7 linked regions of the Homo sapiens genome follow. The protein of the gene in region 6 interacts with the protein of the main gene of each other region in a pairwise test. Each region holds a gene or a part of one and is shown on either strand. Other genes may lie near its edges.

Evidence for each region.
Region 1: the proteins of TMEM248 (region 6) and ANKRD46 interact in binary tests that used the Homo sapiens proteins (3 or more experiments, as listed by UniProt).
Region 2: the proteins of TMEM248 (region 6) and SYS1 interact in binary tests that used the Homo sapiens proteins (3 or more experiments, as listed by UniProt).
Region 3: the proteins of TMEM248 (region 6) and GRM2 interact in binary tests that used the Homo sapiens proteins (3 or more experiments, as listed by UniProt).
Region 4: the proteins of TMEM248 (region 6) and C2CD2L interact in binary tests that used the Homo sapiens proteins (3 or more experiments, as listed by UniProt).
Region 5: the proteins of TMEM248 (region 6) and ARL6IP1 interact in binary tests that used the Homo sapiens proteins (3 or more experiments, as listed by UniProt).
Region 7: the proteins of TMEM248 (region 6) and MALL interact in binary tests that used the Homo sapiens proteins (3 or more experiments, as listed by UniProt).

Annotation. Positions count from the first base shown.
Region 1 is NC_000008.11:100,553,260-100,556,759, forward strand, and holds part of ANKRD46 (ankyrin repeat domain-containing protein 46), read right to left. Parts: intron 1-3,500.
Region 2 is NC_000020.11:45,366,156-45,369,709, reverse strand, and holds the end of SYS1 (protein SYS1 homolog), read right to left. Parts: intron 2,836-3,554; coding exon 2,595-2,835; 3' UTR 501-2,594; downstream 1-500. UniProt on the Homo sapiens protein: Involved in protein trafficking. May serve as a receptor for ARFRP1.
Region 3 is NC_000003.12:51,713,568-51,717,067, forward strand, and holds part of GRM2 (metabotropic glutamate receptor 2 isoform a precursor), read left to right. Parts: intron 1-396; coding exon of another isoform or gene 397-416; exon of another isoform or gene 417-457; coding exon of another isoform or gene 458-554; exon of another isoform or gene 555-1,494; coding exon 1,495-2,570; intron 2,571-3,500. UniProt on the Homo sapiens protein: Dimeric G protein-coupled receptor which is activated by the excitatory neurotransmitter L-glutamate. Plays critical roles in modulating synaptic transmission and neuronal excitability.
Region 4 is NC_000011.10:119,110,344-119,113,843, reverse strand, and holds part of C2CD2L (phospholipid transfer protein C2CD2L), read right to left. Parts: intron 3,284-3,500; coding exon 3,164-3,283; intron 2,998-3,163; coding exon 2,887-2,997; intron 2,793-2,886; coding exon 2,676-2,792; intron 2,582-2,675; coding exon 2,470-2,581; intron 2,324-2,469; coding exon 2,215-2,323; intron 1,517-2,214; coding exon 1,452-1,516; intron 1,363-1,451; coding exon 1,235-1,362; intron 1,145-1,234; coding exon 970-1,144; intron 234-969; coding exon 132-233; intron 1-131.
Region 5 is NC_000016.10:18,795,050-18,798,549, forward strand, and holds part of ARL6IP1 (ADP-ribosylation factor-like protein 6-interacting protein 1), read right to left. Parts: intron 2,996-3,500; coding exon 2,876-2,995; intron 533-2,875; coding exon 415-532; intron 1-414. UniProt on the Homo sapiens protein: Positively regulates SLC1A1/EAAC1-mediated glutamate transport by increasing its affinity for glutamate in a PKC activity-dependent manner.
Region 6 is NC_000007.14:66,941,725-66,945,224, forward strand, and holds part of TMEM248 (transmembrane protein 248), read left to right. Parts: intron 1-123; coding exon of another isoform or gene 124-141; coding exon 142-300; intron 301-3,251; coding exon 3,252-3,500.
Region 7 is NC_000002.12:110,113,023-110,117,087, forward strand, and holds the start of MALL (MAL-like protein), read right to left. Parts: upstream 2,801-4,065; 5' UTR 2,771-2,800; coding exon 2,666-2,770; intron 1-2,665.

The sequences.
Region 1 (3,500 bases), on a different chromosome or scaffold from region 6:
AGCATTAACAGCCAATGGGCAAAATACAGCCAAAAGACTGAGGAGAGGGCAGAGGGGCAGATTTAAATTAACGTAGCAGCAATGCTGGGCTACTGGAAAAAAGATGACTGATAGTAGGACTAAAACTGCCACCAAAGTTAAAATGCCTATATAAACTGTTTCAACAAAGTCACACTCAGAATATTTTTGTTTTTTTAATTAAACTTACGCAGGCTGGGTGTGGTGGCTCATGCCTGTAATCCTAGCACTTTGGGAGGCCACAGCAGATCACTTGAGGTCAGGAGTTTGAGACCAGCCTGGCCAATATAGTGAAACCCCGTCTCCACTAAAAATACAAAAATTAGCTGGGTGTGATGGCATGTACCTGTAGTCGCAGCTACTTGGGAGGCTGAGACAGGAGAATCGCTTCAACCCAGGAGGCGGAAGCTACAGTGAGCTGAGGTTGCACCACTGCACTCCAGCCTGGGAGACAGAGCAAAACTCCATCTCAAAAACAAACAAACAAAAACCAAAAAAACTCAGGCAAACCAAAAAAGGCATCATAATGTAATAAAAGAAAATATAGGTTATTTGGCTAGTTTTAATATGTTTACTTTAAAAAATAAAATACAGCAGAGTATCTAATGTCATCAAGACCCAATATGGAAAGGTAGCTAAATAAACCATTCGTGCTCTTGCATTTGTTTCTGATTTACTTGGTACCATACCTAAATAATAATGTGCACAAATCTTTTAATTGATTGTATTCAGAATTTATTAAAAGCACCACTTATTGGATAGTTTATTAAATGCATGCAAGTATCTGTATATGATTTCTTCAGCATATGTGTGTTTAAGGCAACATGAGAGAGAGCCAGAGACAGGAAAGCTGTCCATTTTAAAATCAAATTGGTGTATATCTCCTGCTTATTCAACATGTTTTGGTCTTGGAATTGTTTCTCTAATAATGTACTGGCAAGTCAGACGTTAAATTATTTAAGGTTTCTAAACACTGATTTGGTGGAAGTGCTAACAATCCTTGTGAACAAAGATAAGCTTCAGAAAAACTGAACAGCACTAAAAAAAAGTATCTACTTTGGAAAATAATGATCCTTTGTAATTGATTTTGGTTTTAGATATAAAGTTTACATTGGTAATTCTAATGTCTGTTTACCAGTTTAATTTTAAAAAGTACTTGGCTGGGTGCAGTGACTCACACCTATAGTCCCAGCACTTTAGGGAATCTGGAGCAAGAGGATCACTTGAGCCTAAGGATTCCAGACCAGCCTGGGCAACATAGTGTGAAACCCCATCTCTACAAAAAAAATTTAAAAATAAACCTTGCATGGTGGTGCGTGCGTGCCTGTTGTCCCAGATATTCAAGGCTGAGGCAGGAGGATCACTCGAGCCTGGGAGGTGGAGGGTGCATTCAGCCATGATTGTGCCACTGCACTCCAGCCTGAGCAACAGAGCAAAACCCTGTCTCAAAAAAACACAAGGAAAAAAAAAGTACTTAGCCAGGTGCAGTGGCTCATGCCTGTAATCTCAGCAGTTTGAGAGGCTGAGGTGGATCACTTGAGGTCAGGAGTTAGAGACCAGCCTGGCCAACATGATGAAACCCCATCTCCACTAAAAATACAAAAATTAGCTGTGTGTGGTGGTGTGTGCCTGTGGTCCCAGCTACTCAGGAGGCTGAGGCAGGAGAATCGTTTGATGCAGTGAGCCAAGATTGTGCCACTGCACTCCAGCCTGGGTGATAGAGTGAGACTCCATCTCCAAAAAAAAAAAAAAAGTACTTATCACAGAGACATAACCATAAACTTAAGTTCTAATAGTACTGAAAGTTATTTTAAATAGAAATCTTTTACAAACATCACAATAGTGTCTTTTATAGAATGCCTAGACAAAACCCAGTTCTCTAATTATTTTCCTTATAGGAAATCTAGAAAAAACCTTCAGTAGAATGGTACTAGTATGACAAATTCAATATTATAGTCTCAGAAGTTCTTTCATTTTTAAAGGATAAAAAAAAAACCAAAAGAAAGTCAACATGGAGTCAGTGAAAAAATTCTACACCAGAAGCAAAGAGGTGCACTAGATCTACATGAAGAAAAGCACACCACTGAGAATTACTTACAATAAGAAAATGAAAAAAATCCAGAAAAATACTGTGCTCTCAGGGACATACAAAAAATTAAGAACTCAGGGTGGGGGAAAAAACAGTATTAAAGAGGACTGGGACTAAAAAAAAAAAGACTATAAGTTAAATAAAAACACAATAGAAATTTAAAATCCAAATTATAAGCAGTAAGGAAATCAGTGATGGAAGGGCCTAACTTAAGAAGCTATGCAAAAGAAAAAAGTTAGAAAGGATGTGTGAGATGACAGCAATGAGAACAAGAAAGGAGAGCCAACCAATGAAAAATTCCTGGAGAAAAAAACAAGAGCAAAACAAAAGGCACCAACTTAATATTTTCCTCAGCTAAAAAAAAAAAAAAAAAAAAAAAAAAAAAAAAAAAAAAAAGATTTCCACATCTAAAGGACCTGTTATCTTTTAGATAAAATTATTGGATTTAAAAAATCAGTAGCTATAACCCTAAACTTTGAAATATTTTAATCATTTTACATCTACAATGCAACAGATGGCTGTATTTGCTATGGAAAAGGCACATTTATCCAGTCAGGATGGTGTAAATCTGGTATTTTACTGCGTACCTTGATTATTTTGTATTTGGGTTTGGACATTAACTTGCTGAGGGCAGAAACAAGAACCTGAACTCATGCCTTAAGATAAAAATTGCATTCTTTTTATACACCTACTACATTTGAAACTATGCAGTGGCTCAATCATGGCTCACTGAAGCCTCAATCTCCCAGGCCCATGAGATGCTTCCACCTCAGCCTTCCAAGTAGCTGGGACCACAGGTGTGTGCTAGCACGCCCAACTAATTTTAAAGTTTTTTGTAGAGATGAGCTCTCCCTATGTTGTCCAGGCTGGTCTTGAACTCCTGAGCTCAACAGATCCTCCAGTCTCGGCCTCCCAAAGTGTTGGGATTACAGGCATGAGCCACTTCGCCCAGCCCACCCAAGCATTTTTATGGGCTCTGAAATGTACTACGTAAAAAGGACACGCTTTATTGGTTTAGAAAGTTAAGTATACATTATTATTATGATCAGCAGTAGGATAGCTATTTTATTTCCACCAGTCATTGATTAAAACAATCCAAGTGTAGTAGGTATTAATCAGTAGCTTAAGCTGGAAATAAAAATTTACTATGGGAACGACTACAGTGCTTTCAAATAACCGACATATGAAAAATTTACAGCTAACCTCTTCCAAAGAGCTGTCCATACTGCAGTCTCCAATGCTCTTCCTCCTGTTGTCTCTTGAAACCACACCAATCAGGTTTTCTTCCTCACTATTCTCCTGAAAGTGCTCTTGCAAGGTCACCAAGGACCTTCCTATTACTAAATCCAATGGTCATCTCCTAGTCTTCATCTTACTTGACTTGTCAATCAGC
Region 2 (3,554 bases), on a different chromosome or scaffold from region 6:
GGATCATTGAGCCTGGGAGGTTGAGGCTATGATGAGCCAAGATCACACCAGTGCACTCCAGCCTGGGTGACAGAGTAAGACCCTGCCTCAAAAAAAAAAAAAAAAAAAAAAAAGGAAATCTCTGGCTATATTTAATGTACTGCATATCAGCTTTTCTTAGAAAGCTAGTAATGTTTATAAAGTACTATTCATCCTCGGTATTTAAAAAAATTGACAGGACAAGAAGATATGATTATAAGGTGATAAACTATTTAACCAGACTGTTTAGCCAGTCAGAACTTATACATCCCTAACTACTGACCTCTTCAAAATGAGCTTATTAATATCACTATTAGAGCCCAAATCCTGGCTCTGCCAGCTCCTAAAAAGTCACCTTGGGTAAGTTCCTTACAGCTCCCTCATCTGTAAGATACAGATGACGTTACTTCTTACTTCAGAGGGTTCTTGTGAAGATTTTGAAAAGAGACATAAAGCACTCAGCCCACACTGCTGGACACCTCTTAAGCACTCAATAGATGTTATTTATTATTAAAATGACAAACATGTCACTGCCATTGCCCTGCCCTCTCTGGAACTCAACTCTAAAAACTGCTTTTATTGTTACTTTAGAAATCATAAAAATCTCATTAAGGTCACATATTTTTGATCCCCAACTACCATGCAGCTCAGTCTCCATATTACTGAAAAAAAGTTTGGATCACGTGACTTTTGGCCATTTCTAAAAATCAAATTAACACTCAGGGGACAGAGATTTGTCATCACAGAAGATATGCAGAAAAATAGGCACAAGACCTTGAAGTGAATCCCAAAGAGGCGCTCCAACCACAGATGGAGTAACCACCACCACGGCTGGTCAAGGGTGACAGCAGCCACATGATGGGTGTTCTTTCAAAGTTAGTCACATGCCTGCAGTTTGTGTTGTCTAGAGGGAAATTGATTAACCCAGGGAAGGTCATCCCAGCTGGTCTTACCTCCTAGACCCTGCAGCCAGGATTACTGTGCCTCATTAACAAACTGCTTCCTTCCAACTTGGCCAAGGTACCATGAGTTACTGAGGTGCCTCACCCTAGAACCTTCCCAGTCTCTTCCCAGGCATATTTATTCCTAAATCTTCATCCTGTCAGCATCAACTCCCTACTCTGTAGGGCTGAGAGTCAGGAGGTCAGATGAGCTTCTCAGAGAGATAGCAAAACTCATTTGTGTTACCATAAACTCATTTGTGTTACTGACAGCTGAAAACTGACAGCTCTCTTGGGAAAGCTCTGAAGAAACCAAAGAGGAACAGTGAAGGTTTCAATGCGGAAGTGGGTCTAGACTGTGTGCCGCTCCATTGAACATGTTCAGAAATCACTAGCAAGTAGGAACGGAAACCCAAGAATTATGTGGTTCACCTGAGGCATAGCAGGGGACGCTGCAAGTGAAGGAGACAGGATGTAAGAGTTCCCTGCACTGAGTATTTTAACCAAATGGAGGAATGACTCTGGGGTCCAGGAAAGGGAGAAGGTGGCCTAATAATTCTTTAAAGTTCCCTTGCCTGGCTGCGCTGATCTCTCTCAATCTCAACCGTGGCATTACAAAGTAAGTGCAGGCAGAACCATGGAAAATACTGTATTTGTATACACAGGAAGGATAGCTGCAAGCCCCTCACAGAGGAAACTCCACCCCAAAGAAAAATCTTAGCAGCAAATTCCTATCTCCCTCAGCACTATCAGCACAGCCCAGGCCAGAAGGTTGGGCTTCTTGTCTCTGGGAACCCATCATACCCTTCCCGCCAAAGAATTCTAAATAAGGCAGGAAAAAAAATTGGAGTCCAGTGGGAGCTGGGTGCCTGGTCATTCCTAGAAGACAGGCAGTGTCTTTATGATGGTTAGACTTTGAGCAACGCTGGGATTCTTCTCTGGGTCCTATGGCCTGCTATGTTGAGAGCTGGCAGCAGGATGGGGACCTGGTAGAAGGAACTGGAAGAAAGTCATAGGTTCTTGGGTGCACATGAACGTGTGTATAACAGGGCACAGGTTGTGCATTTTCCTTGTGCTTGATGCCTCCATCTGCCATCCTCTCCCTGACAGCAGCCTAATACTTCACACCTACATTTCTTTCTGTGGCTCTGGATCCGGAAACCAAGCGTTTCTCCAACAGAACTGCTGTGATTCGGCAACACTGCAAAGGTAACTGCTGTGATTCGGCAACACTGCAAAGGTAACAGCTGTCCCAGGGGGGTAAGACAGATGACTAAAGAAGTGGTTTGCTCCAATCAGATATCCTTGATTTTTTTTCTCTCTTAAAACAACAGGCTGGTGACAGGTATTGTGGCTCAAGAGTGGCATGGTTCCAATTCTGTTATTACCCTCAAAGAGGTCCCCTTCCTGACCTCTCAGATACCAAGGCTTCAACAGACAGAGGTCATTCTTGCAGCTGTCATGCTGACTGCTACCTGCCTTCTTTGACAGGCCCTCACTATCTCTCCCAAACCAACAGAGACTTCACATTTCCAGGGTTCCTCTCAGATCTGGGCTGGACCTCATCTGGAGGGTCTGAGCAGCCCAAGGTGTTAAGGGGCCCAAGTGTCAGCAGGATGTCCAAAGGGCCTGATTCTAGACATTGGATTTAGGGGCTGAGTTGAGGGGTATCTCCTTGAGCTCCGTCCGCATGCACAGGTACTCCCCGATGACAGCCATGAGTGCAATGCACACGGCTTGGACCAGCCACCAGGTCAGCGCCGAGGGGAAACGGGAGCTGTAGAACCAGCAGCCCAGGAGGTGAAAGAAATGGACAGTGACAGTGAAATCCAGACACTGCTTTCCTCGCCGGATGAAGTACAGCAAGCCCAGGGCACTGTGGGGAGAGGACAGCAGTGAGTTGTCACTGGGTTGTCCTGGCCTTAGGTTATTTGGGAGGGTAGGGACAATTAGGACGGCAGCATAGTGGTCAGAAGTGACGAGATAAGTGTGAAGCAAGGGTTATGATACCAGACGCCTAGAAGAACCTGGCGGGTAATGTCAAGAGTGAAGCTGACTGAGTATGAGCTTGATGATCGATGGCAATTGTCACTAGGGGATCCTAGGAATTGGTGGGGATCATGACACCCTGAAGCATACATGTTCTAGCTAAAGGGGGGCAGTAGCTACTTGCATCTAGGCAAATCTTATCATGCTAGAAGGTTGGCCTGGAATCAGTCAGTCATTCCATTATTCAAGAGAAGCCAGAAATCTGGATTTTTATATAAAATAGCCTGATTTTCAACTAAGTGAAAAAAATGTTTTAAACACCATGTGTGGGCTGACATCTATGTAAGCCAAATAGAACCTATCTGGAAGACAAATTTAGGTCAAAGTCAGCCCACCAGTTTTCAACCTCCGGTGTAAGGACAAGAATAATAATAACATGCAAGGCACTGTTCTAAGTCCTTCTTGTGAATTAACTTATTTAATCCTTACAACTATGAGGTAGGTAATATTACTAGCCCCATTTTACTGATGAGGCAACTGTGGTAGATTAACTTGTCCAAAGTCACTAGACTAGTAGTAAAGCTGAGGTTCAATGCCAAATGAGTC
Region 3 (3,500 bases), on a different chromosome or scaffold from region 6:
CCTTGCCCACTGTCTTCTGTCTCCTTATCTTGCCAAAGGTGGAGACCAGGAGACCTCAAGCCCATTCTCAGGCAGCACCAAGAGTTAGAATCAGTCTGGCTTGAGGGTGAGCATCAGGATGACGCTCTATATTCACGGAAAATGTCTTTCTGTCTTTCTTTTTTCTTTTCTTTCTTTTTTCTTTCTTTCTTTCTTTCTTTCTTTTCTTAGATGGGGTCTCACTATATTTTGTAGGCTGGAGTGCAGTGGTTATTCACAGGCACAATACAGCCTCCAACTCCTGGGCTCAAGCGATCCTTCTGCCTCAGTCTCCAGAGTAGCTAGGATGACAGGCATGTGGCACTGCTCCTAGCTTCAGGGAAAATTTCTATTCCTAATCTTGATTTTCCACTCAAGGTGACCTGAAAGTCTCCTGAAATCAAAAGTTATTTTAATAAGAGTGCCAGCTTTAAGAGAAATGACTGCTGCAGATCATCACTATGCTTCAGGAAGAATCACCGTGGGAACAGTGGGAGACAAAGCTTGGAAGCCCTGGCCCAGGGTTAAGATGAAGAGTACTTCCAATAGAACTGACATTCAGAGTTAGCTACAATCAGTGTAGGGGTTAGGGTTGGAATCTGGGGTCCGATTTGGTTGATGTTAGAGCAAGGCTAAATTCAGCATGTTTGGCTTGGGTGGAATTTATGGTAGGGCTAGAGTTGGATTTTGAGAACTTTTAGGCTGAGTAGAAAGAGTAGGTGCTTGAGGGGACCTGGGTTTGAATCTAGGCTGCACTATTCACTCATGGGGCCTTAAGCATGTCTTCTGCTTTCTTGAACCCTGATTTCTCACTGGGGCCAGGGATGGCTGTAAATCCTGGCTAGAGCCTGGCTGGGAGATGTGAGGTTTACAGGGGATGAAGTGGGGGTGGAGAGAGGAAGTGATTTTCCAGCCACTGACCACATTCTGGTGAATGGCAGTGGTTGCAGGTGACCAGTGAGGTTGGGATTCAGTTTGCACCAGGATGACTGTTAGGACTAGGGGTGCTGGAGCTGGGGTTGTTGTTAGGATTAGTGGGGACAGGATTGGAGCTGAGACTGGGTTTAGCCTTAGCATTGAGTTTGGGGAGAGGGCTGTAGTGTATGTTTCGATGAAGTTGGGATTTGGAGCCTGGGTTGGAAAGTGTTGGATAGTACTAAAGTTGAATTTGGGGAGTCATGGTTGGGGATTGATGTGGGCATTAGGTTTTTGGAGATGTCTGGGCTTTAAGGCTGGGATTACATTTGGCATTTAGGGTTGGGGTTTGATGTTGGAGTTTAGGAGTAAGACTTTGTTGTCATCTCTCATTTAGAAAAATGATTGGGGTCAAGGCAGGATTTAGTATTGGGTTAAGGATTGGAAGGGCTAATGGTGGTCTTAGCTCTGGCATTTGGGTTCCATGTTAGGGTGAATGTTGAGGTCACATCAGGGTAACACACTAGTCCAACCTTCTCTTCCTTCCCTCCCCCATCCTAGCCCCCTTTCGCCCAGCTGACACCCACAATGAGGTCCGCTTTGACCGCTTTGGTGATGGTATTGGCCGCTACAACATCTTCACCTATCTGCGTGCAGGCAGTGGGCGCTATCGCTACCAGAAGGTGGGCTACTGGGCAGAAGGCTTGACTCTGGACACCAGCCTCATCCCATGGGCCTCACCCTCAGCCGGCCCCCTGCCCGCCTCTCGCTGCAGTGAGCCCTGCCTCCAGAATGAGGTGAAGAGTGTGCAGCCGGGCGAAGTCTGCTGCTGGCTCTGCATTCCGTGCCAGCCCTATGAGTACCGATTGGACGAATTCACTTGCGCTGATTGTGGCCTGGGCTACTGGCCCAATGCCAGCCTGACTGGCTGCTTCGAACTGCCCCAGGAGTACATCCGCTGGGGCGATGCCTGGGCTGTGGGACCTGTCACCATCGCCTGCCTCGGTGCCCTGGCCACCCTCTTTGTGCTGGGTGTCTTTGTGCGGCACAATGCCACACCAGTGGTCAAGGCCTCAGGTCGGGAGCTCTGCTACATCCTGCTGGGTGGTGTCTTCCTCTGCTACTGCATGACCTTCATCTTCATTGCCAAGCCATCCACGGCAGTGTGTACCTTACGGCGTCTTGGTTTGGGCACTGCCTTCTCTGTCTGCTACTCAGCCCTGCTCACCAAGACCAACCGCATTGCACGCATCTTCGGTGGGGCCCGGGAGGGTGCCCAGCGGCCACGCTTCATCAGTCCTGCCTCACAGGTGGCCATCTGCCTGGCACTTATCTCGGGCCAGCTGCTCATCGTGGTCGCCTGGCTGGTGGTGGAGGCACCGGGCACAGGCAAGGAGACAGCCCCCGAACGGCGGGAGGTGGTGACACTGCGCTGCAACCACCGCGATGCAAGTATGTTGGGCTCGCTGGCCTACAATGTGCTCCTCATCGCGCTCTGCACGCTTTATGCCTTCAAGACTCGCAAGTGCCCCGAAAACTTCAACGAGGCCAAGTTCATTGGCTTCACCATGTACACCACCTGCATCATCTGGCTGGCATTCCTGCCCATCTTCTATGTCACCTCCAGTGACTACCGGGTGAGCTACCTGCCACAGAGGTCGGGGGAGATGGGACACCAGACCCTCTGTTTCCTGGTATCTTATTTAATCTACTGGTAGCTCTGGGGTTCCAAGAGGATAATGCCCACTCAGGGGACCACAGCTTGTGTGGATCCCAAGGGGAAGGTGGGAGGGCTGAATAGGACCTAGGGAAATGGCCAGGGAGGTGGGGAACTCGAGTTAGAGAGAGCTGAGATTTCAGGACTTGAATGTCATCCCCTATCCTGGAAGGTGATGGGGGTGCAGAAATATGTTCAAATGGACAGGGTTCTGCCCTGCTCCACTGAGGGGTCATCTGCAGAAGGGGTTGAGAGATGAAGCCAGGGAAGGCAGGAAAGATGAAGCAAGGTGGGTAGGGGAGGAGATCCAGGGTATAGAGTTGAGAAAAGCTAAAGCAGGTGAAAATTGTTCCCCAGTTGGTGGCTTCTGAGCAAATTTGGTTCCAACTGGCACTGTGTCTCAATGGGTCTCCCCAGCTCCAAGGGGCAATGGCTGCTTCAGATAGGGTGGTCAGGGAAGCCCTCTCTGAGGAGGTGACAGATGAGCTATGTTCTGAGTAAGAAGATTATCTTGGTTAATCTTCATAACTTGAGTAAGCTCCATGGCTCTCCCGTTTTACAGATGAAGAAACAGAGACTCAGGGAGGTTCAATCCCTTGCCCAAGGTCACTCAGCTTGGGAGTGCAGAGCAGGGTCTGAACTGCAGAAAAATTGAGGCGAAAGCCCCGGCAAAGGCCCCTTCCCCAGGACAGAGGTGTGGTGGCACAGTGCTGGGGGCCAGGGACCGCTGGGCTTGGCTGCTCTGCTTGCACCTGCTGGGCCACCTGCTTGGGTGGTAGAGGCCAGGGCTGGGGAGGGATTCTGCTCTGACTCAGCCTGCATTTGCATATGATTTGCATTTGCATGCCAA
Region 4 (3,500 bases), on a different chromosome or scaffold from region 6:
GCAGAGAATGAATAACCTGACTTCTCCCTGGCTCTTTCTTGGATTGGAACTCCTCCTATCCCACCCAGAGTACTTTTTGATGCTGGGGCACCAGGGCCAACCCACACTCATGCACCCCATTCCCCACTCACGGCTGCTGCTATGGGAGGTATTGCTGGGGCCACTGCTCTCACTCAGCACAGTTGTCGTCTTCTCGGTCACCTCCACCTTGGACGGGGAGCGGGAGGGGGAGTCTGGTGGGTGGGGGAGGGTCAGTGAGCTGGGAGTTGCTTCAGAGTGGCCCCCACCCCTACTGTCTTTGTTGAGATGCAGACTTTGGGTGACTCAGAGGGCAAGAATGATTAAAGGGTGATTAATCACAAGGGTGATTAGGAAGATGCCGTGGGGACTAAAAGACACCCCAGGAGCTAATGGGAGTGTAGGAAAGTGCCATGGGGCCTGCTGAAGGTGTGGGGAGATGCTATGAAAATATGGAGCGGGGACAGAGGGGGTACTGGGGCTCCCTGAAGTTGGGGCAATTCAGTGGGGCCCCTATAATGGCAGAAGTGCCATGGGGGCCCACTGAGTGGGGTAGAAATGCCACAGAGGCCTCTGGGTTTGTTGGAGGACCCCAGGGGGTGCTGGAGGGCTGAGGGTAGCAGGATGGACAATTATAGTCAGCTGGGGCTAAGGACACCTGTGAAAAGCCAGAGGGGAAGCTGGAAGGTAGGAGTGCAACAGTCCTGTATGAGGAGGGGCAGGAGGATCCAGAAGGGTGGCAGAGTGAGAGGAATTGCTGGGGAAATGGCAGGAGGTAAGGGAAAGTTTGGAAGAGACAAAGATTGGGAGGAAGATGTGGTAGGACTGGAATGGAATGTCTGAAAACAGGGGGAGTTGGAATTAAGGCTCTCTCCTCTTTCACTGTCCTGCCTTGGGTCTGCAGTCCCGGGCCCCTGGCTAGAGCTGGGCTCCCAGGCTCCTTCTCTTTACCTAATTTGCCGTCTATACGGGGCCGGGACTGGACAGTGGTGACTGTGGTGACAATGGTGCCATCGGGCATGATGGTCCGGTCAAGCTCAATCTTCTTGGTAGGTGTGATGCTGGGGCGTGGAGTGGAGGAGGTGGGAGTACCCAGGTTCCGGGGAGAGCCCTCCTCATAGTGAAGCTGCCCAGGGGTGGGAGAGAGAAGAGACAGAGCCTCGGAGACTGCCCATCCCCTGTGTCCTCCCACCTACCCCAGGGGTCAGCTTCTCACCTCCACTGCCATGGTGGCTGCTGGTCCCAGGGCTTTCCCTGGCCCTGGGGTGAGTGGGCACAACTGTCTTCGAGACAGTGGTCTGGAGGGGGAGCCCACAGGCAGTGTGGCCTGGCCTAGGAGTTCGGCTGGGGAAAGGGATGGCACTGTGAGCTGGGCCCATGGCCAGACCCCACTCTGTACCCACCCAGGGGTGCCCCTCCCACCCCTCACTTACTGTCTCCACAGCTGCTGCTCCTCAGCACTTTGAGGGTCAGCTCCCGGCTCTGGGGGCCCAGATCCCTGTGGGACAAGAGGAGATGGGGCAGGAAGGAGAAAATTAGCAAGCTGAACCCACACTTGAGTGGATCACAGGCCAGAGGCAGAGAGCTGTGTACATAAATAAAACGGCATAAATGCTCCAATCAGATTCTCCTGGCCTCCAAATTCTCTCTCGTCCCAAGAGAAAGGGACAGGGCCTGAGTGGAAACCATGCTTCTCAGCTATGCATTCAAATCCTCCCTGGTCCTGCTCTTCCTGTCTTGCCAGTCTCTCAGTTGCAAGCCACCCTCTTTCATTTGCTCCAGCTCTTCCCTCTGCCGAGAATACTTTCACACTCTGATGAAATCCTACTCTTGCTCTAAAGTGTGGTTTAAATGTCATCTCCTCCATGAAGCCTACTCTGATCCTTATTCCCTCATGGGAATTAATCTCCCCCCCACCTAGGCACTCTGACGGCACATTACATAAACCTCAACTGGAGCGGTTTTACCATCTTCTTTATGTACACCTGTCTCTGCCTCAAGCTTGTCATTGACCCAGGGGTGGGGGCTGTATCTTGGTCAAGTCTGTATCCCTAAGACCCACGCCAGGGCCTGGCATACAATAGGAGCTCACGCCAAAGGCTACTGAAAACAGAGCTGATTCCTGCAAGGACTGTGCTGGAAAGGTTTGATCCTCTCTGCTCTGGAGCATGGGGTCGGGGCAGGGTTACTCCTTACAGTGCCAGGTCTTCTGTCCACTCCACCTCGGATCCAGCCCTCGCGGGCTTGGTCCACTTCTGCTGCATGGGGTTGTCGAGTTCAGCTACACAGCACAGTTCCTCGGTGCCTGTGATGAACCAGAAGTTAGAAGATGCTCAGATCAGAGATGGGAAGTCACTGCAGAATAAAGAGGCTGTACCCTTGGCAGAGGGGCAGAGAGCATCTGCAACCAACCATAGCCTTGGCAGTCCCGCAGCCACTTCCAGCTCTCACCTTCCAGCTCATTTCCCAAGTGAGATGCCCGAAGCTGCCGTAGGAATAACCGGTTAGGTCTGGGGATGGCTGGCTGAGCCTGGGGCATCATGGGTGGCTTCTCACTGGGTACCTAAGAGCAGAAGAAGGTCCAAAGAGCAAGAATCCTGACATAGCACCCTAGGAACAAGGTGCATGCAAATCTTTTGCTTTGGGTGCCAACTCACCAGGCCTCCTGGGGCAGAGCAAGCCCTGAGGTTGACCATCATGGCTGGCTGGGTGCTGACTATGGCATCCTTGATCAGTTCCTCAATTGTGGAGAGCTCCACTTGTTCTTCACCTCTCTGCAGAGAGAAGAAGGGAACAACAAGGAGGTGGATCCCCCACCTCTGCCTCCCTCCCCGTTCTGCCTCTTCTCTGCCAGCTCTGCCTCCTTACCTCCCTGGCCTGAAGCTTGGGAAGCACCGTTAGGCTGAGATCTGGGCGATCAGTGAAGGCCCAGGATATGAGCAGCCCCTCACCAGGGATTTCCTCCAGGTTGACTTCCAACTACAGACAGGAACAAAGTGACTGGGCTGACTTGCCCCATTTACCCAAGGACTCCTAATTCGAGGACTCTCCCTTCCTGAATTCCATCCCAGAGAGGAAACAAATGGAAGAAGCTGAGCCAATGGAACCGCCCCTGCCCAACTCAGTTTCCCACATCCCCTTCTACCTGTGTTGGTGGCAGTGTCAGAGTGACGTGGTAGGTCTCCATGGAGACGGCAGCGGGGGACTGCTGGGTCACAGAGACTGGGAACCGCACCTCCTCAGCAGAGAGCTGGCAACGCAGCACCTGAGACCGGCGAGGTGGGTCAGATGTGGGGGAAGGGTGCTCACCCTGCTTTGAACTGCCCTGTAATAGTTCAGCAGACCCCTCCCCACTTCCGTTTTCCTAAGGACTTCATGTTTTCAGGATCATAAATCCCTAAAAGAATCAGATAAATGCCAAAGACTCCTCTCCCCAGAAAAATGCATATAAACACACATCCAACATTTTGCACATAACTTCA
Region 5 (3,500 bases), on a different chromosome or scaffold from region 6:
TCTGTCACAAAGGCTGGAGTGCAGTGGTGCAAACAGCTCACTGCGCAAACACAGCTCACTGCAGCCTCGACCTCCAGGGCTCAAGTGATCCTCAGCCTTCCATGTAGCTGGGATTATAGGCATTAGCCACTGTGCCCGGCCTAAACAGATGCTTTCTAAGTATATGTCTTTTACTATTATTTCAGTAAGAAAAATGAAACAGAAGAATTTTGTTTTATTAGAATAAAAAATTAAATGCAAAAATGTAATTTTTAACTTTAAAATGATTCAGTCTAATTAATACAGGTAAACATTTATGAATGTACTTAGGAATTAACCAATGAATAATTTTCAAATTATAGCTATTAAGACAAAAAGGCGAATTGACTCAAATCTTAAAATTTTACTGTACTTAAGTCAAAGCAAAAAAAGTACCATCTTAGGTTTTTCTTCCTTTAGTGTGAAGAGGCGTTTCCACCAACCCACAGCTCTGCGTCGAGTTTTTACTAGATTGCTGCAAATTTCATGGAATCTTTGCTGTTGTTCAGTGGTCCTAGAAAAGAAATTTGCCTTTTGCTATAAACAAATCGTTACAGTAGACAAAAACATGACACCCTGTTCAATTTAAGAGCTATCTTCTAAAGAAAATAAAAATAAAAACAATGTTTCACCATTATCTTATGTAGGTGAAAAAATCCTTCCACCATTAAGACACCTTTTATAGCACAGGAGTAAGTATTTACATAAACTATGTGTGTGAGAGAGAGAGTGTGTGTGTGTGTGCGTGTGATAAAGAAAGGATCATCTCTGGCTCTGAAGCCACATTTATTTAATGGTAGTAAAAGACTCATGACTTCTATGGGCCATAAAGAAATCAGTATAAATTTGATTTTGCTATTCCTAAATATTCTTTAGATCCTAGTAAATGCTGCACTATACCTACCAGAATCCCACCGAACAACTGTATTTGAACACTCCTTAGTAAGATACTAACTACTGGCATTTAACACATAACACCCCCAACTGGGCTTCATACATCTGATGACAAGGCAGCAATAAACAGCTCAAATCTAAATTCTTCTTTGTAAATTTATCCCTAGGGAGGGAAAATATAATCAACAAACAACACAGCAGTAAAAATCCAACAAGAGACCCTCCAAGAAAACCTTTTATATTTATAATGTTTTTCTTGGTTCTGATTTTTTTAATTGCCTTTGCACTGTCTTCGCTACACAGCTATAATGGCTGCTATTATTGCCCTGTGCTGAGGGATGTGTTGCCTTCTCTTCTCTAGCCCTCATCTCTGTAAAACTGCAGTGATAGATAAAGTACAAGGATTTCTGCTGAGCCCTGGAACTTCTTTTCAACAATGAGATGTTATTTCTTGCCCATGGTCAAGGCTAGATTGTGGCTATGCAAAAGAGTATTCTTTCTTCCTTGTAAGATCAAAAAATAAACAAAATCTGCTCTATCAATAACTGAGTCACATCACGAAACTATCAGTGGTTATTTCTGCAAACTTTCCTCTAGGAGTTATAAATTAGCAGACTGGAATGTTATCTGGCTAATAAGGCCAAGGTCAGTGATTTATTTCCTTTGCTAACTCTGTTATACTGCACATTCAGAAACTTGCCCAAAAGAGCCAACAACATTGATTCATTACTGCAAGTGAAAAACAATTTGGACAGTTCCTAACACTAATCCATTCTGCTGTTGGGGGAAACACCTTTAAATATTGTCAATTATATCATAATTTAAGCAAACTTTGAATTTGTTCTTAAAGATCCATAAGGTACACATTTAAAATTCTTATATTTACAGAATTATTTTGCAATTTGCTATCCTCTGAGATACAAACAACCAAAGGCACAAGTAGAATACTAACCAAATAAAATAAACAGCCAAGGATAGAATAGCAGCTGAGAAGAAAATATCTATTCCAACTTCTATTTTGGCTGATTATTTGAATCAAAACTCAACATGCTAGAGAAAGTTAAAATACTTTTAATATGATCCTTATCCACTTAACTATATCTGAGGAGTTCATAAGCAACCTCATGGTATAAATAGGCCGGGCACGGTGGCTCACGCCTGTAATCTCAGCACTTTGGGAGGCCGAGGCGGGCGGATCACAAGGTCAGGAGATCGAGACCATCCTGGCTAACATGGTGAAACCCCGTCTCTACTAAAAATAAAAAAAAAAAAAATTAGCCAGGTGTGGTGGTGGGCACCTGTAGTCCCAGCTACTCGGGAGGCTGAGGCAAGAGAATGGCATGAACCTGGGAGGTGGAGCATGCAGTGAGCCAAGAGCGTACTGCACTCCAGCCTGGGCAACAGAGCGAGCCTCCATCTCAAAAAAAAAAAAAAAAAAGAGAATGGTATAAATAAAATCAGCAACCCATGTGTATACAGCTTGAACCTCTTCGGAAACACTTGGTATTCACTTTGTTAACTGCCATTCCACTGCCTCAGTGTCTCAGTATCTCAGCCTTAACACAAGATCAATCTTAAAAGTCAAAATATTTCACAGTACTTTACAGGGCCTGCCACAGTAGGCATTTAATAAATAATTGCTAAATGAATGTGAATGAAAATCTGCCAGTTTCCTTTTCTGTATTCATTCAAAAATAATTTGTGAAGTTATTATACTATCCTAAATATCAATGGAAATGTAAAAATGTATATGTGCATTTACCATAAAAGAACTATGGAGTACAGAAAATTCATAGTTTATATTCAAATCAGTTACAATATTCTTCACATAAAAGCAATAAATCTAATGCTTAGGTGTCTGATGGTTAGACAATTATCTCTGCTTATTTACAGCATACTAATCACAGCCACCAAGTTCAGTAACTACACAAAAATGAGACTGCCAAATCATTATGCTACCTACCATTTATTGGAGCCAAAAATTCTAGGCGCTAGAATGGGAACAAGGTAGTCAGCCAAGCACAAAAACATAACAAAACAGGAAACGCCGGACAGAACAGATGGATCTAGATAGTAGATAATCCTGTTAAAAAAATTAATAAAGGTTAGAAAAACATAGTCATTATTATTCCTAACTAAACATGTCTAACTTAACTATTCACTTAACTATTCACCGCCTCTCAGAGATATTTGCCATTTTTCTTCTAATTTTCTCACAAGTGGCTTTCCAGAGGCTTTGTGACATGCTGATATCATAGCTGCAGTGGTTAAGTATATATCAATGGACAAAAGCTCTTTGGAGTTCTCAGCACTTTTTTAAGAGTTTAGGGAGGTGGGGGACTAGGGGAGGGATAGCATTAGGAGAAATACCTAATGTAGATGAAGGGTTGATGGGTGCAGCAAACCACCATGGCACATGTATATATACCTATGTAACAAACCTGTACATTCTACACATGTTTCCCAGAACTTAAAGTATAATAACAAAAAAAGAGTTTAAGTGTCTGGAGGACAAAAAGTTTGCGAGTCACTGATTTACTCAAGTGCTTTAGGTTACCAAGTTTACAGAAGTACTACAAATTCTGGAA
Region 6 (3,500 bases):
CAAATTCAGTAATGAGTGCCCATCCCACCCAGCTCACCCCCCAACACCTCAAAAGGAAACAAAAGAATCATAGCTTTCCTGTTGGCAAGTCAGTCCTTGAAGCTTCTGATTCATTTCTTTCAGGTGGAGCTGATCAGAATAATGTTCAGCATCAACCCCCTGGAGAACCTGAAGGTGTACATCAGCAGTCGGCCTCCCCTGGTGGTCTTCATGATCAGCGTAAGCGCCATGGCCATAGCTTTCCTGACCCTGGGCTACTTCTTCAAAATCAAGGAGATTAAATCCCCAGAAATGGCAGAGGTATAGTATGCTCTGACTTCTCCCGGGCTGGCTGGTCCTTGTGCAGTGGGGCAACACCCTGTGGCTTGCCATATAGCTTTCTTGGGTTTTGGCCTTTCTCTCCTAGTGAGAAAAATCAGTATTTATTCAGAATTTTCTGTTTTCCATCTCCCCAGGACTCACTTTGTTAGGAAATACCTAGATGGGTATTGTTCGATTTAAATATGCTACCAGTTTCAGTTAGACTATTTTAGCAGTGAAACATGCACTTTGGAGAGTACATTTGTAAAATGATCTGTGTCAAAAAGCTGGAGACCTCACCTCTGTAATATTCCATCTCAAATGGGTTCATTGCTGTTTTAGAAAACTGAACATTTGGTATTTTAAAACCACATATCATCATGGAGTTTTATCAGCTATACTAATGGTTTTTTTCATGAGATAAGAAGGAATCCTAAAGAAATTCAAAAACAGGACCTAATTTCCAAATATATTTGTTTTTTGTTTTTTGAGACGGAGTCTCGCTCCGTCACCTAGTCTGGAGTGCAGTGGCGTACTCTCAGCTCACTGCAACTTCCACCTCCCGGGCTCAAGCGATTCTCCTGCCTCAGCCTCCTGAGTAGCTGGGATTACAGGTGCCTGCCACCACGTCTGGCTAATTTTTGTCTTTTTAGTAGAGACGGGGTTTCGCCACGTTGGCCAGGCTGGTCTCGAACTCCTGACCTCAGGTGATCCACCCATCTCGGCCTCCCCAAGTGCTGGGATTACCGGTGTGAGCCACCGCATCCAGCCTAATTCCTGTCTTTTAGTAGATTCCTTGGGTGCCTTCTCTTATTCTATTTCCTTCTTCTTGGGTTTGTTGGTGGGTGGAGGTGGGGGTGGGAGTGGGGCTGGGAGTGCGTGGTTGCCGCATTGAGTGTGCCTTGCAATGGAGAGGAGAGTTGTGTTCCATGTAATTGAGATCGTAGCTTTCTCTCATGCTCTAGGGCATTCTAGATCTTAAGTGATCTTGGCAAAAGGAACCGCCTACACATGTGAGCTCTTTCTAGCACAGTTCAAGTAACGAGTTTTAGCTATTTCTACCATGTAACCCTTTCAAAGAGTTTATTACTAAGAGACATACTGGCTGGCTTAATTCTCTCTCTTTTCTGACCCTGCCTCAATCTTTAAAGGTTGTGAAAACAGGCTGCCCCCACATCAGGGCTGAAAATGAATATTCTACTCAAAACTAAAGCTGCACAGCCTCCTGCCATTTCTTTCCCGCAGAGCTTGAGTCCATGTTGAGCACTTGGCCAAGGCCAGTGGTTGCACTGAAGCCTGGATAATTAGCCCTTAATAATCCAAATTAGGCCTGGCATTGGCTTTAGCCAGCTGTTCAACGTGGACTCCAGCTCTGTAGGAACGCATTGTTGAGATGCTGCGGAACTTTGGTTATGATTAGTTTCGTGATTTTTGTTTTCAAATGAGGATCCTAGGTTGTAGGAAAGGCAGTGGTGTATGGGAAACATTTGGGGCTGTGAATCAGAACTTAATGCTGATTTTACCTTGAACTAGAATTGGAGAGTCCCTAATTTGCCCTGGGCCTCAGTTTCTTCATGTCTAGGATTATGAAGGACTGAGACTAGAATGTTCATTTTCAACCCTAATGTACTAGAATGGTCAGTTGAGTTTGTAGGTGTTAGGGAAAATGTAATTTGATAGATCCAGTTGCAGTCTTACTAAATGTCACATACAGTTAAACTGATGCTGTAAGGGTAGACTTACTGGGCTGGGTAGGGGTTGCTCAGATGACTTTTTTTTTTTTTTGAGGTGGAGTGTCACTCTGACACCCAGGCTGAGGCTGGACTTCAGTGGCGCGATCTTGGCTCACTTCAGCCTCTGCCCCCCTTCAAACGATTTTCGTGCCTCAGCCTTCCAAGTAGCTGGGATTACAGGCATGCGCCACCATGTCCAGCTAATTTTTGTATTTTTAGTAGAGACAAGGTTTCACCATGTTATCCATGCTGGTCTCGAACTCCTGGCCTCAAGTGATCCACCCTGCTTGGCCTCCCAAAGTGCTGGGATTACAGGCGTGAACTACCGTACCTGGCCTCAGATGGCTTTTTTTTTTTTTTTTTTTGAGACAGAGTCTCACTGTGTCGCCCAGGGTGGAGTGCAGTGGCACGATCTCCTCTCACTGCAACCTCCACCTCCCAGGTTCAAGCGATTCTCCTGCCTCAGCCTCCCAAGTAGGTGGGATTACAGGCACACACCACCACACCCGGCTAATTATTGTATTTTTAGTAGAGACGTGGTTTCACCATGTTGCTCAGGCTGGTCTCGAACTCCTGACCTCAAATGATCCACCCACCTTGGCCTCCCAAAGTGCTGGGATTACAGGTGCGAGCCACCGTACCTGGCCCCTTCCTTTTTGAAATCGTTGCTGCTCTAAGGTGTCATCAAAAGTCCATAAGAAGGGGGGCAGTGTCCCAAATGAGTATTAGTATTCACTGCTGTTTTGTGTTCTAGAGAAAGAGAGCAAGGTGTATGGAATTGACCTTTTGGGACATTATTTTAAGGTGACTTTATTTAAAGAAAAGAATTGTAGTTGCAAAATGAGTTTGGATTAATGCTTTTCTTCAAGCGTTCTTTTCAAGTTTGGTTCTGAGGCTAGATCATTTTCTCTAAGTGTAATATGCTGGATTTTTTAAAAAGATTTTCTTGAATAAATTGATTTGATTTCACAGTTTATTGAGTATCTTGTGCCAGTGAAGAGTTCATATTTTAGGTTGTGAATATAAAAGTGATTAGGAAAGCCACATCATGCTGCCTGTGAAGAGGGTGGTGGCCGAGTTGTCATGATCTTAAATGATCAGCTCTGAATTGTAGTTTGCTGATGTGCTGCGGTGCCACACTGGGGTCTTACCTGTATTCCCGCAGTGGGAGACAGGCGCTGCTTAACACCCATTTCTCTTTCTTTCACTTTCCCAAAGGATTGGAATACTTTTCTGCTACGGTTCAATGATTTGGACTTGTGTGTATCAGAGAATGAAACCCTCAAGCATCTCACAAACGACACCACAACTCCGGAAAGTACAATGACCAGCGGGCAGGCCCGAGCTTCCACCCAGTCCCCCCAGGCCCTGGAGGACTCGGGCCCGGTGAATATCTCAGTCTCAATCACCCTAACCCTGGACCCACTGAAACCCTTCGGAGGGTATTCCCGCAACGTCACCCATCTG
Region 7 (4,065 bases), on a different chromosome or scaffold from region 6:
AAACATCGTATGTTCTCACTGATATGTGGGAGCTAAGCTATAAGGACACAAAGGCATAAGAATGATACAGTGGACTTTGGGGACTTGGGGAGAAGAGTGGGAGAGGAGTGAGGGATAAAAGACTACAAATATGGGCCAGGCACGGTGGCTCACGCCTGTAATCTCAGCACTTTGGGAGGCCGAGGCAGGCGGATCACGAGGTCAGGAGTTAGACCATCCTGGCTAACACAGTGAAACCCCGTCTCTACTAAAAATACAAAAAAAAAATTAGCTGGGCATGGTGGGGGCACCTGTAGTCCCAGCTACTCGGGAGGCTGAGGCAGGAGAATGGCATGAACCCGGGAGGTGGAGCTTGCAGTGAGCCAAGATCGCGCCACTGCACTCCAGCCTGGACGACAGCGAGACTCTGTCTCAAAAAAAAAAAAAAAAAAAAAAAAAGACTACAAATGTAGTGCAGTGTATACATGGATGATGAGTGCACCAAAATCTTACAAATCACCACTAAAGAACTTACTAATGTAACCAAATACCACCTGTACCCCAATAATTTATGGAAAAATAAATTTTTCAAAAGCACAAAAAAAGAAAAAAACCTAATCAGTACTCTTCAGAAGTGTCAAGATAAGGACCCAGATTTTCCCAAATTAAAGGAGATGAAGGAGATACGGCAACTAAGTGCCATGTGGGATCCTGGACCAGAAAAAGGACATTAGTGAGAAAATTAGCAAAACTGGAGTAAGGTTTATAGAGTACTTGATAGCACAGTATCAGTGTTAGTTTCCTGATTTCAAGAGTTGTACCACGGAAGATGCAGGCATTACCAGCAGCTGAGGGAAGAGTACACAGAACTTTCTCTACTATTATTGCAGCTTTACTGTAAATCTCACGTTACTTAACAGTACAAATAAATGAAGAAAATTGGGCCAATGTGAATTTTGATTGTCATTGAGCCCCTCACCCCCCACAACACGTAAGGCCCCAGAGCCCAACACCAGCGTGCACTTTGCTCTTCCAGGAGTTTCACTGGCAGGAGCAGGGCAGGTGCGGCCAACATGACCTCTCATGTTTCTCACCCTGGGTGCTGTCCTGGTTCCAGAAACTCCGTGCCTCTAGCCTCCTTCCAGGACTTCTCCCCTGGCCTCTAGGCCTTTCCCTCTCTTTCCCCCCAGCCTGTAAATGCCTGTTCTTTGAGGTCCAACTCTTGGTGGCAGGCCTGGACCCCTCCTTGGCCTGGAGAGTTCAGATGGTCCCTCCTTGCTGAGGCCACCATCCACTTGTTGGGAGGAAATGCTCATGAGTCTCTTCCCGGCAGACAGGAAACCACCAGGAGGCAGTGCCCTGTCACCAGGGGCTTGCAGGACTGACATGAACCACAGGCTCAATAAAAAGAGGCAGAGTCAACCAGTACCCCAGCCACCCATGCAGCTGCTCCAAGGTGAGGGGCACACCCAGGGCCTGGCACGTAGGACTCATCAGAGCACGGTTATGTCATCAGTCTGGCAGGATGCCCACGCTGTGCTGGGGATGGTAGCCTTGGCAGAAACCTGCCTCTTAGGTGGGGTTTCAGCTGGAGCCACTCAGATCCTAGGCCCACCCTGCCTGATTCTCTTTCTGGTCGCCATCAATGGCTAACCCGTTCGCCAGTTTGCCTAAAAGTGGCTTGAGGGGGCCCAACTTTGCAAGCAGAAGACGAGAATGAGAAGGGCTGAAAAGTAGATGCACTTTCTATCTTTTCCCCCCTGCTCAGGGACAGCACTGCCAAATTCAGGGCAGGTAAGAAAATACCACCCACAAGCTAGATACTTCAGAAGGTGCTGGAAAAAGAAAACACTCCTTTGCCTTGATTGGACCCCAGGCTTGACTGTGCTCCTCCGTGAAGAGGATGTGGTACCAGCCAGTTCCGAGGGAACTTGTGCAGTGCGGAACGCTGCATACGCACAGCTCTGCAGATGGGAGCAGGCAGGATCCCCAGGGATCAGGGCCACGACTCAGTCGTAGGGCGCCCCAGAGAGTAACACAGCGACAGGTTCTCATTTGCAACCAGGGTGCCGCACACGACTGTTTTATGGCAGATGTTGCCATAGCTACCTGGTGTGGGAGACCCCACAAAAGTCAAAGTTCAAAGTCAGCGGACGTGACAATTAAGAAAACACTGGAAGACCTACTCTCAGAGGGAAACACAGTCTCCTCACTTCAAACCAGAAAGGCACAAATAGTTGGACAAAAGAAGCCGCGTAATTAAAATTCATGTGCAACATCTCCCTGGGAAGCCTGGATATTTTAGCGACGTCCCCCCAGGCCTCCACACTCAAGTGGGTTTTGTTTTGGAGGGAGGAACCCCCTTGGCGGCATAAGACGGGGCACCGAGTGGCATCTGCCTCTTGAGTACAGCTGCGCCCCGCTGTGCGCCCGGTGGGAGGCTGGCAGCCACCGCAGCCCCTGTGCTCGCTCCCCGCTCTCGGTCCGGTCTGGGTCTCTCTCGGCGCGGTCCGGTCTGGGTCCGAGGCCGGTCTCCCCCCCCCTCTCTGCAGGTGGCCCCTGTGCTTGCTGCCCCTCTCTCTTCTCGGTCCGGTCTGGGTCTCTCTCTTCTCGGTCCGGTCTGGGTCCGAGGCCGGTCTCCCCCTCCCTCTCTGCAGGTGGCCCGGGTCGGGGGTGCCGCACTCACCAGCTCGGGCAGGAAGAAGGCGAAAGGGATGGTGAGGAACAGCGCGACCCCCGAGGGCACGTCGGACGGGGCGTAGCTGGTGGCGGGCGGGTCGGGCGAGGCCATGCTGTCAGCCCCTGCCGGGTGCTCCGCGGCAGCTCGCCCGCGCGCAGCCTGTCAAATATCACCTCCTGCCCGACACACCCATCGGACGTCGCCTGGGAGGGAAAAAAAAAAAAAACGTTCCAGCCGAGCAGGTCCTTCCACTCGCTGCAGCCAGCAGATCCTCAGTGGGCGGCCCAGCGGCATCGGATGGCTCTGCCTGGCCGGCGGGGGGCACAGCGCTGGTGCAGGAGGGAGCAGAGCGGGAGTCTCCTCCTAGACCTTTCCAGCTAAGGAATCTTTGACCCCCGGAGCATGTTATTCCAGGGGATGCCAGCGACAGCCACTCCCCTGGGCCCAGAGTGTAGGCCCAAGCTGCTTGGCTACGAGGGCTGCGTACTGAGGACCAACAATGAGCCAAGCTATCTGCAGACAGCCCGGGTGCCCACCACGGCCTGCACGTGGCTGTTTTGCCCTTTTCCAAGTGAGGAGACTGAGAATCAGTGAGGTCAAGTCAAGACCACAGAGCTGGTTACTAACAATGCTGGGTCTTGCCCAGCTCCCTCCTTTTCCACTCTTGGGGACAGCTCTCAGTCCCCAGCCTCCCCTGGGAGGAGCAGCCCTCCCTTCCAGCTCATGCCCCTGGGACTTGGTGTTTCCTTCTTTTTCTGGATCCCTTTCCATGGTCCTCCACTCCTCTTTTCCTCATGGGGCAGATGAAGGCCCCCCAGTCTCTGGGAGAGGACCACACCGGCAGGCACCAGAGAAGGGCTGGGCTGGCTGGCTGCTGCCTCTAGTGGACAACCTCCTTCCTTCCCTGGCCTTCCTTCCAGCCAGTGCCTTGCCCCTAACTGGGCTTGAGACCAAGAAGTTTCTTCCTGACTCCTAGGCAAGTCAGGGAGCTGAATGCAGGGCTGTGACCCAGAGGCAAGCAACTCCTTTCACACCAAATACAAGTCCCAAAGGCTGAACCATTTTCCCCTCCACCTTTGAATTGGCGAACCTTCATTTTCCCGACCCGCCCTGAAACAGTCTGCTCAGGATGCTCCAGGTTAGGGTCCCTTCTTCCTGCCCCCTGCTGCTCCCTGGTGTGGAGAGCATGTGGGGAAGATTGTGTGAGGGCTGGAGTAATTAGAAGAGGCCATGTCTTGATCTCATTAGCAGAAACGGTGAATGCCAGGTCCTGCCCTCAGGGCCACAGGTGGGGAGACCAGCCAGCTTGGCCTTTGCCTGGTCTGGGGAGAGCCAAGGGAGAGAGGAGTTTGGACAAATGAAGCTAAGACCAAAGGCATTGCAAAGAAAGGCAATGAACCCCCCAG